Regions from separate parts of the Homo sapiens genome. Here region 1 is linked to region 2. Evidence: fine-mapped expression QTL. Tissue or cell type: blood mononuclear cells. Region 2 holds a variant in brackets; the other region holds the start of a gene. All regions are shown on one strand. Distances are from middle to middle.

Region 1 (4,661 bases), 24 kb after region 2:
TGCGGAAAGGATTCCCTATTTAATAAATGGTGCTGGGAAAACTGGCTAGCCATATGTAGAAAGCTGAAACTGGATCCCTTCCTTACACCTTATACAAAAATTAATTCAAGATGGATTAAAGACTTAAAAGTTAGACCTAAAACCATAAAAACCCTAGAAGAAAACCTAGACATTACCATTCAGGACATAGGCATGGGCAAGGACTTCATGTCTAAAACACCAAAAGCAATGGCAACAGAAGCCAAAATTGACAAATGGGATCTAATTAAACTAAAGAGCTTCTACACAGCAAAAGAAACTACCGTCAGAGTGAACAGGCAACCTACAAAATGGGAGAAAATTTTCGCAACCTACTCGTCTGACAAAGGGCTAATATCCAGAATCTACAATGAACTCAAACAAATTTACAAGAAAAAAACAAACAACCCCATCAAAAAGTGGGCGAAGGACATGAACAGACACTTCTCAAAAGAAGACATTTATGCAGCCAAAAAACACATGAAAAAGTGCTCACCATCACTGGCCATCAGAGAAATGCAAATCAAAACCACAATGAGATACCATCTCACACGAGTTAGAATGGCAATCATTAAAAAGTCAGGAAACAACAGGTGCTGGAGAGGATGTGGAAAAATAGGAACACTTTTACACTGTTGGTGGGACTGTAAACTAGTTCAACCATTGTGGAAGTCAGTGTGGCGATTCCACAGGGATCTAGAACTAGAAATACCATTTGACCCAGCCATCCCTTTACTGGGTATATACCCAAAGGACTATAAATCATGCTGCTATAAAGACACATGCACACGTATGTTTATTGTGGCATTATTCACAATAGCAAAGACTTGGAACCAACCCAAATGTCCAACAATGATAGACTGGATTAAGAAAATGTGGCACATATACACCATGGAATATTATGCAGCCATAAAAAATGATGAGTTCATGTCCTTTGTAGGGACATGGATGAAATTGGAAATCATCATTCTCAGTAAACTATCACAAGAACAAAAAACCAAACACCGCATATTCTCACTCATAGGTGGGAACTGAACAATGAGAACACATGGACACAGGAAGGGGAACATCACACTCTGGAGCCTGTTGTGGGGTGGGGGGAGGGGGGAGGGATAGCATTGGGAGGTATACCTAATGCTAGATGACGAGTTAGTGGGTGCAGCCCACCAGCATGTCACATGTATACATATGTAACTAACCTGCACATTGTGCACATGTACCCTAAAACTTAAAGTATAATAATAATAAATAAATAAATTAAAGAAAAAAAAAGACTGCAGATTATTCATATATGTTATAAGGTTTAGAAAGCACTGATCTATTCCAGTTTCTTCCTTTTTCCAGTGAGGAGAATGAAACCAAAGACGCAATATGACCTGCTGGAATACGAGCTGCTTAAGTAGCCCAGGACTCCAACTCATAGGCTTTTTTAGCTTCTGTGTATAAGACAGTTGGCCTGAAAGTAGTGTGCAGTATGGACTGAAGGGTTAAGTTTTTGGGAGTGGGAAGACAGTTAAAAGTCTATGATAGCAACCTAAGATATATTACATTATAAGAGTTAGTACCAGGACTACATAGAAAGGTGGAAAAATGCAATCACTTTAAACAGACCAATAAGATAATTCAAGATAAGAGATGACAACACGTTGAGAACACAGAGGCTCTCAGATCTGATTGTGGGGAGAAGGTTCATAGTCTGGAGGATTAATTTGGAATCAAGAGGAAGCAGAGAAGATTTCAGAGTGCATTTAGAAATTTCCGGAGTTTTCTCACACAAATAACTTACTCTGTCTTTCCTTACTCTCTCTTTGATTACCAGAAGCTGAAAGAAAGGAATTAACCTTTTTCTGGCTTGAAAACATCTAGAGAACATACTCTCCTTCAGTGTCTCTACACAGTCTCAGGATTCAAACTACATACCACCAATAAGAGAAAGATTCAGCATGCACACTATTGGTTGATTTCCCTTTTGGTATTTCTGCCTGTCACATAGCAATAAATCAAGATTTTTCTAAGACCTGAGTACCCAGCTGCTAGTCAGAAAAGGGCCCAGACTCACCAGCCATAGCTAACAGCCTCTGTCTCTTTGTACAGCACTGGAAAGTGCCTCAGACTCAGAGATAAAATACACTAGGTACTTCCTTATTGCAGGGAGTGGGGACAAGTGATTACAGATTATGGGAAGTTGCTTCTGGGAACCTATAGTTTCATCATTGGGAAGTGCCCTGTAGTAAGCAAATTGGCTTTCTATTCTTGAACTCTAGATTCTTCCCTGGGGAAAAAAAATGCAAATGACAAAACATTGTTTTGTGGGTTGAAACCTCAGCCTGGTTTTCTTTTTCCTTTTCTCTCTCCATAGCCCCACATCTTCTTTTATTCATCCCTCTCTTCTGATCTGTCAGTTTTTCTACCTCTGCTCGTCTAAAAACACATGTCCTGAATGAGTAAAATCTAACTAGTTTCCTTGCATCTTCCCATAAGAATTAACCAAATATTTTGTATATCTTGGGTTTCTTTATTTTTCATTTCAATTTTTATTTGAGTTTCAGGGGTACATATGCAGGTTTGTTACAAGAGTATATTAGGTGATGCAGAGGTTTGTAGTACAATTTAACCTATTACCTAGGTAGTGAGAATAGCACCCAGTACATAGTTTTTCGGCTCTTGCCTTCTTCCTTCATTCCTCCCTCTGGTATTTCCCTGTGTCTGTTATTCCCGTCTTTATGTCCATGTGTACACAATATTTAGCTAGAACTTACAAGTGAGATTATGTGATATTTGGTTTTCTGTTTCTGCATTAATTTGCTTAGAATAATGGCCTCCAGTTGCATCCATGTTGCTGCAAAGGGCAGGGTTTCATTTTTATGGCTGTGTAACATTCCATAGTAGCAGTGTACCACATTTTTTTAAATCCAATCCACCATTGATGGACACCTGGGTTGATTCTATTATTTTGGCTACAGTGAATAGTGCTGCGACAAACATTTGAAAGCACATGTCTTTTTGATAGAACAGTACATTTTCCTTTGAGGATTCAGTCAGTAATGGGATGCTTGGACAAATGATAGTTCTTTTTTTAGTTATTTGGTAAATCTCCAAACTGCTTTTCAAAAAGATGGATGCATCACATTACTGGACTTCAAGCTATGCTAGAAGTCTACAGTAACCACAACAGCAAGGTATTCGTACAAAAAAAACAGACACAAAGCCCAATGGAACAGAATAGAGAACCCCAAAATAAAGCCACACACCTATAACCAACTGATACTCAACAAAGTCAACAACAACAGCAAAAAGAAACAAGGAAAGGATTGTTTATTCAATAAATGTATTTCTTGTTTAAACTGTGCTGAGGAATCATGATGGAGTCTTCTCCTCCCCATCTCCCTGTCATCTTACGCTTTGATTGGAGACAGTTCTGAAGGAATCCTCTTATCTACTTCCTGGAATGCTGTTCTTCAACTGACTAAAACTGCTTTAACAGTTAATTTTTACTTAGGGTGGCAATTCACTTCTCCTTTTTGATATTCTCTGAGCAAAGACTGATCACAGATGTAGTCTCAGGTTGTAGTAGAGTATGCATGATAACACAGAAGAGATATGCCCAGAGAAACAGTTAATAAAAGGTAAAAAAAAAAAAAAAGAGAGAGAGAGAGAGACTGTAATGTGTTCAACTATGAAGGTGTTTAAGAAGTCAGAAATTAACTCTCATTTAATCTGTTAAATATTAGAAAAAAACATATTTGCAAGTAAGGGGTAGTTCTTCGAATCCTCCCTAAATCTTAACATCCCTGAGTGCATGATTTCACCCCAAACTCGTTTTCTCTGCACCATGCCAGGACTTCACTGTGCACACCATGCATCCTAGAGTTTCTTCAGGGTGTCAGGCACCATCTGCCAAGCGCTTCATTTTGGATGGCTGTCTTATCTTTTCAAGAAGTCTGTGAACTACTGAGGGTTGATTCAAAACTTACTTTGTCTTAAATACTTTTGCAAAGGGTAGAAACATGCAAGTTCATGGATTTGTCAGTAGCAAACTGTGGGATTTGGGAAAAGTTCTTTATCACACTACACTGTCGCTGTCATAACTAGCTGTCTTCCCCCGTCTCTCCTGCTGAGCTCTAAATTATTTGAAGTCAGATACCTGCTGTAACTTATATCACATCCCCAAAGCAGAAAGCCCAGCAAACGATTTTTCTTTTTTTAAAAATGGCACAAAATAAATTTTTGTTCAAGAAAGTAATTAATAACATTGCTATGTTTGTAAGTCTGATTTTCTTTTTTAAATTTTTATATTTTATTTTACTTTAAGTTCTGGGAAAGAAAGGTGCCAATAGCCAGTTTGGGTCTGACAGATTAAGTCAAACACTCTAAATTCCTTAGTCACTCTAAGTTCCAGTCCCTGTTTCTTCAGTGTGGGAGAAAAATGAGGACAAGTTTTCATTTTTCTACCAGATTTATTATTTCAAAAAAGTTTATTATTCAGCAGACATAATTCCAAAAACCTTTACAGAAGGATCTCTTCACTTCCTATGAGAAAAAGAAATAATTAAAAAAAAAAACATAGGAAAGAATTTTGTTAAAGACATGCAAGTTATAAAGTTATACCACCAATGGGAACATACACAATTTTAAAAGGAAAG
Region 2 (4,000 bases):
TGTTTTACTTTGCTCTTCTTCTGGGATATATTGACATTTTCTTTCTCTAAAGCAGATTTTAAACACCTGAATGACAGAAATCAGGTGCCATACTACTTTTGCTTGCCTGAAAAACTGTGTCATTTTTATTCGATTAGTGAATAATGATAAATTCTTTCTGAGCAAATAAGTAAATGACTAGAAAAGGAAATGGAAGCTTACCTTCCGAAATATTTCCATTAGGTGGCAGCAGCAAGAATATTTCTGGAAGCATGTGATGAGTTCCGTAATGAAGATGGAGCCCCTTGTGCGGTCTCTCCAGGACACGTTATCTATGATGATACAGCCTGGTATGCCTTGGGCTACGACTTTCACTATGTTTTTGTTTATATTTTTGTTTTTGCATAGCTTGAGAATTTACTTGATAGATTTATGGAAATCCCTTATAACCAAACATTTACTTAGGTTTCACACAGAGGAAACAGAAAAGCTGGCAAAGGTTGAACAAAAAAGACAGCTTGTAAGTATTGCAAGAGATTGCATAGTGATTGTATTTTGATTCTTGGAACTAACTTTTTATTATGGACCTCATGTTCATTCACTTTGCTTAGAAAAGGGGACTTGAGAAATAACTGGAATTCTTTCACTTTACAAAGGAAAGAATAGAAGCTCAGAAGGATGAATAAACTTTTAGGTTCAGTGAGGAAGCAACAAAAAACTACCGTCGGGCTCCAAGATTGTTTACAGATTGCACCATGATGTCTTTCACCATAAAATAAACAAAATAGATGAACACATCCAAAGTTTCAGTTATAGAAGATTAAAATATAGAAAAATACTGTATAATATGGTGCCAATAGTAAATAATACTGTCTTATATACTTAAAAATTTGCAGAGAGTAGATCTTATGTAAATTATCCTTATCACACCCTTGCAGAATGATGATAATAATAAATAGAGAGCTGGAGGAATCTTTTGGAGGAGAGATGTTTACAGCATAGATTTGGGTGATGATTTTAGGGGTGTGTACTAATCTCCAAACTTATTGAGTTGCATACATTAAATATGTACAGTTTTCATATGTCAGCTATGCCTCCATAAAGTGGTTTAAAAATAAGACTTGAAAATTTACAACTTGGAAAGAGTAAAATAGAAAGCCCTTTAGGATGATTACCTAGAGGTGAAATACAAACGACTGTTTCCTGTAATTAGACCTAATTAGCTCCACCCTAACATTTCTTACCTTTTTTAAAGCTCATTCACATTTTTATCTGGACACTTAATAACATTGCTCTTTGTAGGATCAAGTGGGATATATGTAGAAGAGGGCTTGAAGTTGATCGTTTGGAAAGACAGCCAGTACTGGGATCCATAAAACTTCTATTCAAAATGTTAAATGGATTTATTAAAAAAACAGCATCCATCATCTATGTTTACATGGTGTGTGGCGAATGGGGTTCCTTGTATTGTATTGCTTTAATATTTGGTATGCCTTTGACTGTAAAGTGTAACACTTATAATAAAAGTACAGTTTTTTAAAATGTGTGTGTGGGAGGGGGAAGGAATCTATTCTCACAGCACACATAAGATCATGCAAAATATATAGAGAGCACACACCATTCTCTCAGCTCATTGTTGCATAGGGCCTATCTTGATTTCATAGAATCATTCAAAGGTGGCCTCAGCACCCCCAAATTTTTGACTGTTACTAAAAGACACATACGTGGTGTTGAAGAACAGAAAGCAATGAAGTCCTTCTCCTCGTGGATCTTGCAAACAGAATCTGCCTCCAGGTTCTCAGATGACTGTGAAGAGATGA[G/C]TGCCAAGGATGCTGGAGAGTCTCTGACCCAGAGTTCCCCATGTTTTTCTGTAGAGACATCAACTTTCTTTTTTTTTTATGTTACTTTAAGTTCCAGAATAGAAATGCAGAACGTGTAGGTTTGTTACATAGTTACGCATGTACCATTGTGGTTTGCTGCACCTATCATATAGGTTTTAAGCCCACATGCATTAAGTATTTGTCTTAAGGCTCTCCTTCCCCTTGTCGCCCACCCCCCGACTGGCCCCGGTGTGTGATATTCCCCTCCCTGTGTCCATGTATTCTCATTGTTCAACCCTCACTTATAAGTGAGAACAAGTGGTGTTTGGTTTTCTATTCCTGTGTTAATTTGCTGAGGATGATAGCTTCCAGCTTCATTCATGTCCCTGCAAAGGACATGATCTCATTCCTTTTAGGGCTACACAGTATTCCATGGGATATGTGTACCACATTTTCTTTGTCCAGTCTATCTATCATTGATGGACATTTGGGTTGGATCAAGAGACATCAACTTTTTATACACTGATGTGCCTCACTTAGCATGGCTATCACAATTGCCCACCTTGTTATTTTTCAGTGTTCTTTCTAACTAATTTCATACATACATACAGACCCACACACATGCAAACACACACACACATTTTGCTTTGTCTCTAGTGTCATTCAACAATGTGTAAATTAATAGTGAATTTATCATGTCATTACCAGTTTTCAGTTAAATTATTGCTGCTTTCTTAAAGAAACAAAACAAAATATACATCCCAATAGTCATGAGGTAATTGGAAGTCAGGAATAAAAAGAGGGAGAGAGAAGATTGACTTAAATCCCCTCAAGTTTCCTTAACTCCCAACTCATTTTCCCTTCAATAATTGTGAATAAATAGGGTGCTTGTATCACATAATAACTTCAGTTTCAAGTGCAAATTCTTCAGAAACCACATAATGTCAACATGTCTGTAAATCATTTACAAATCAAGCTATCATGTAAATGATTCCATTTCAAAGTTTGAATATTTCTGTTTAACTTTGATTTAGGGATTCTGATGATCTCCTTCACCACTTCCTTCACCACTATCACCGTGGATAAAATTGTACAGAAATTTCTCCACTGATGAGACAATTTCTCATTATATCAGCCCCTTAGGTAGAGTTTCTTCATAATTCAATGTACTTTATTTGCACTGGATGGGGTCTAACATTGTTTCCCCTAAATATAAACCAAACATCACAATCCTCTGCATACACCTTCAAAACTGTTAGATGTTCAGCCTCAGCACTCACCACCTCTGCAGGCCTGGACAATGATGACCTTGGGTTTGTCCTTTAGACTGAGGCAGTTGCGGTTGTTGAATATCTGGAAGATGGTGTCATAAAGCAGCACATCCGGTTTTTTCTTTTTATGCGCAGTTCCGCAGATTCCCTCTAGGATGCCATGAGACATGAGTACCAAGAACGTGCTGTCAGAGGACTTGTGCTCTGGTCTGGCAGCAAATGCCCTCAGCACTGACTCCATATCCTATAAAAGAGCAATGTCTAACTTCAGTCAGAGAAGCATCACAATTAATAGGACCTCCTAGATTTACCATGAGCGAAACAAGAAACATATGTAACATCCGGGTCGTGGTGCTTCACATAGCGCTTACTCAGTCATGACAGCAGTTTTATGTTTTTTTGTTTTGTTTTTTTTTTCCTTTGTAATGGGGCTGTGGGTTCCTACTTTTTCTCCCTGCTGACACACCATACACTGTCTTCTTAATATATTGTATATTTTTATATGTTACTTATATTACTTTTTTTTATCTCAATCTTTTCTCTCCTTTCCTAACAAGAGTCATGTGTTATAAACGCATCACACCACTGTCCTTGTAAAACCCAACATACGTTGCTTAGAATAAAATCAATCTTCTGGCCTGACCATACTCATCCTTATACTATGTCTGTTCTGCTTCAATCTCTAGTCACACTGATCTGTTGTGCCTCACATGTGCCAGTTTCATTTTCAGCTCAGCTCTTTCACAGGTAGCGCCCCCTACTGGGAAGGCGCTGCATTCTCATCTTCCCAGAGCCATTCCATTCCTTCCGGTAGTGCCGTCCAACTCCTGTGTTCTCTCCCCACAGAGGCTTTTCTGGACCAACCCAAAAACATCGCACCCCATCCAACATTCTCTCTCATGTTTCCTTTTTGCTTACTTTGGATTCTCT

What was found. PIP is the estimated chance that this variant, and not a neighbour inherited with it, causes the effect.
Region 1: it holds the start of CASP5, and the variant in region 2 is fine-mapped to the expression of CASP5 in blood mononuclear cells (TOPMed, PIP 0.98).

The regions. Positions count from the first base shown.
Region 1 is chr11:105,021,053-105,025,713 of GRCh38, forward strand. It overlaps CASP5 (caspase 5), which reads right to left and starts at 2,116. Exons shown (of 10, transcript NM_004347.5): 1 at 2,078-2,116. The coding sequence starts at 2,084. The region is part of intron 1 of LOC124902742 (a long non-coding RNA gene); the gene reads left to right. CASP1 (caspase 1) reads right to left here. Exons shown (of 9, transcript NM_001257118.3): 9 at 4,456-4,661.
Region 2 is chr11:104,997,182-105,001,181 of GRCh38, forward strand. CASP5 (caspase 5) reads right to left here. Exons shown (of 10, transcript NM_004347.5): 6 at 3,080-3,314; 7 at 1,704-1,847; 8 at 202-311. Among named protein-coding and RNA genes, the nearest start is that of CASP5, 24 kb to the right of the region's middle. RefSeq lists an enhancer at 3,101-3,395. The variant G/C (reference allele first, on the strand shown) is at 1,800.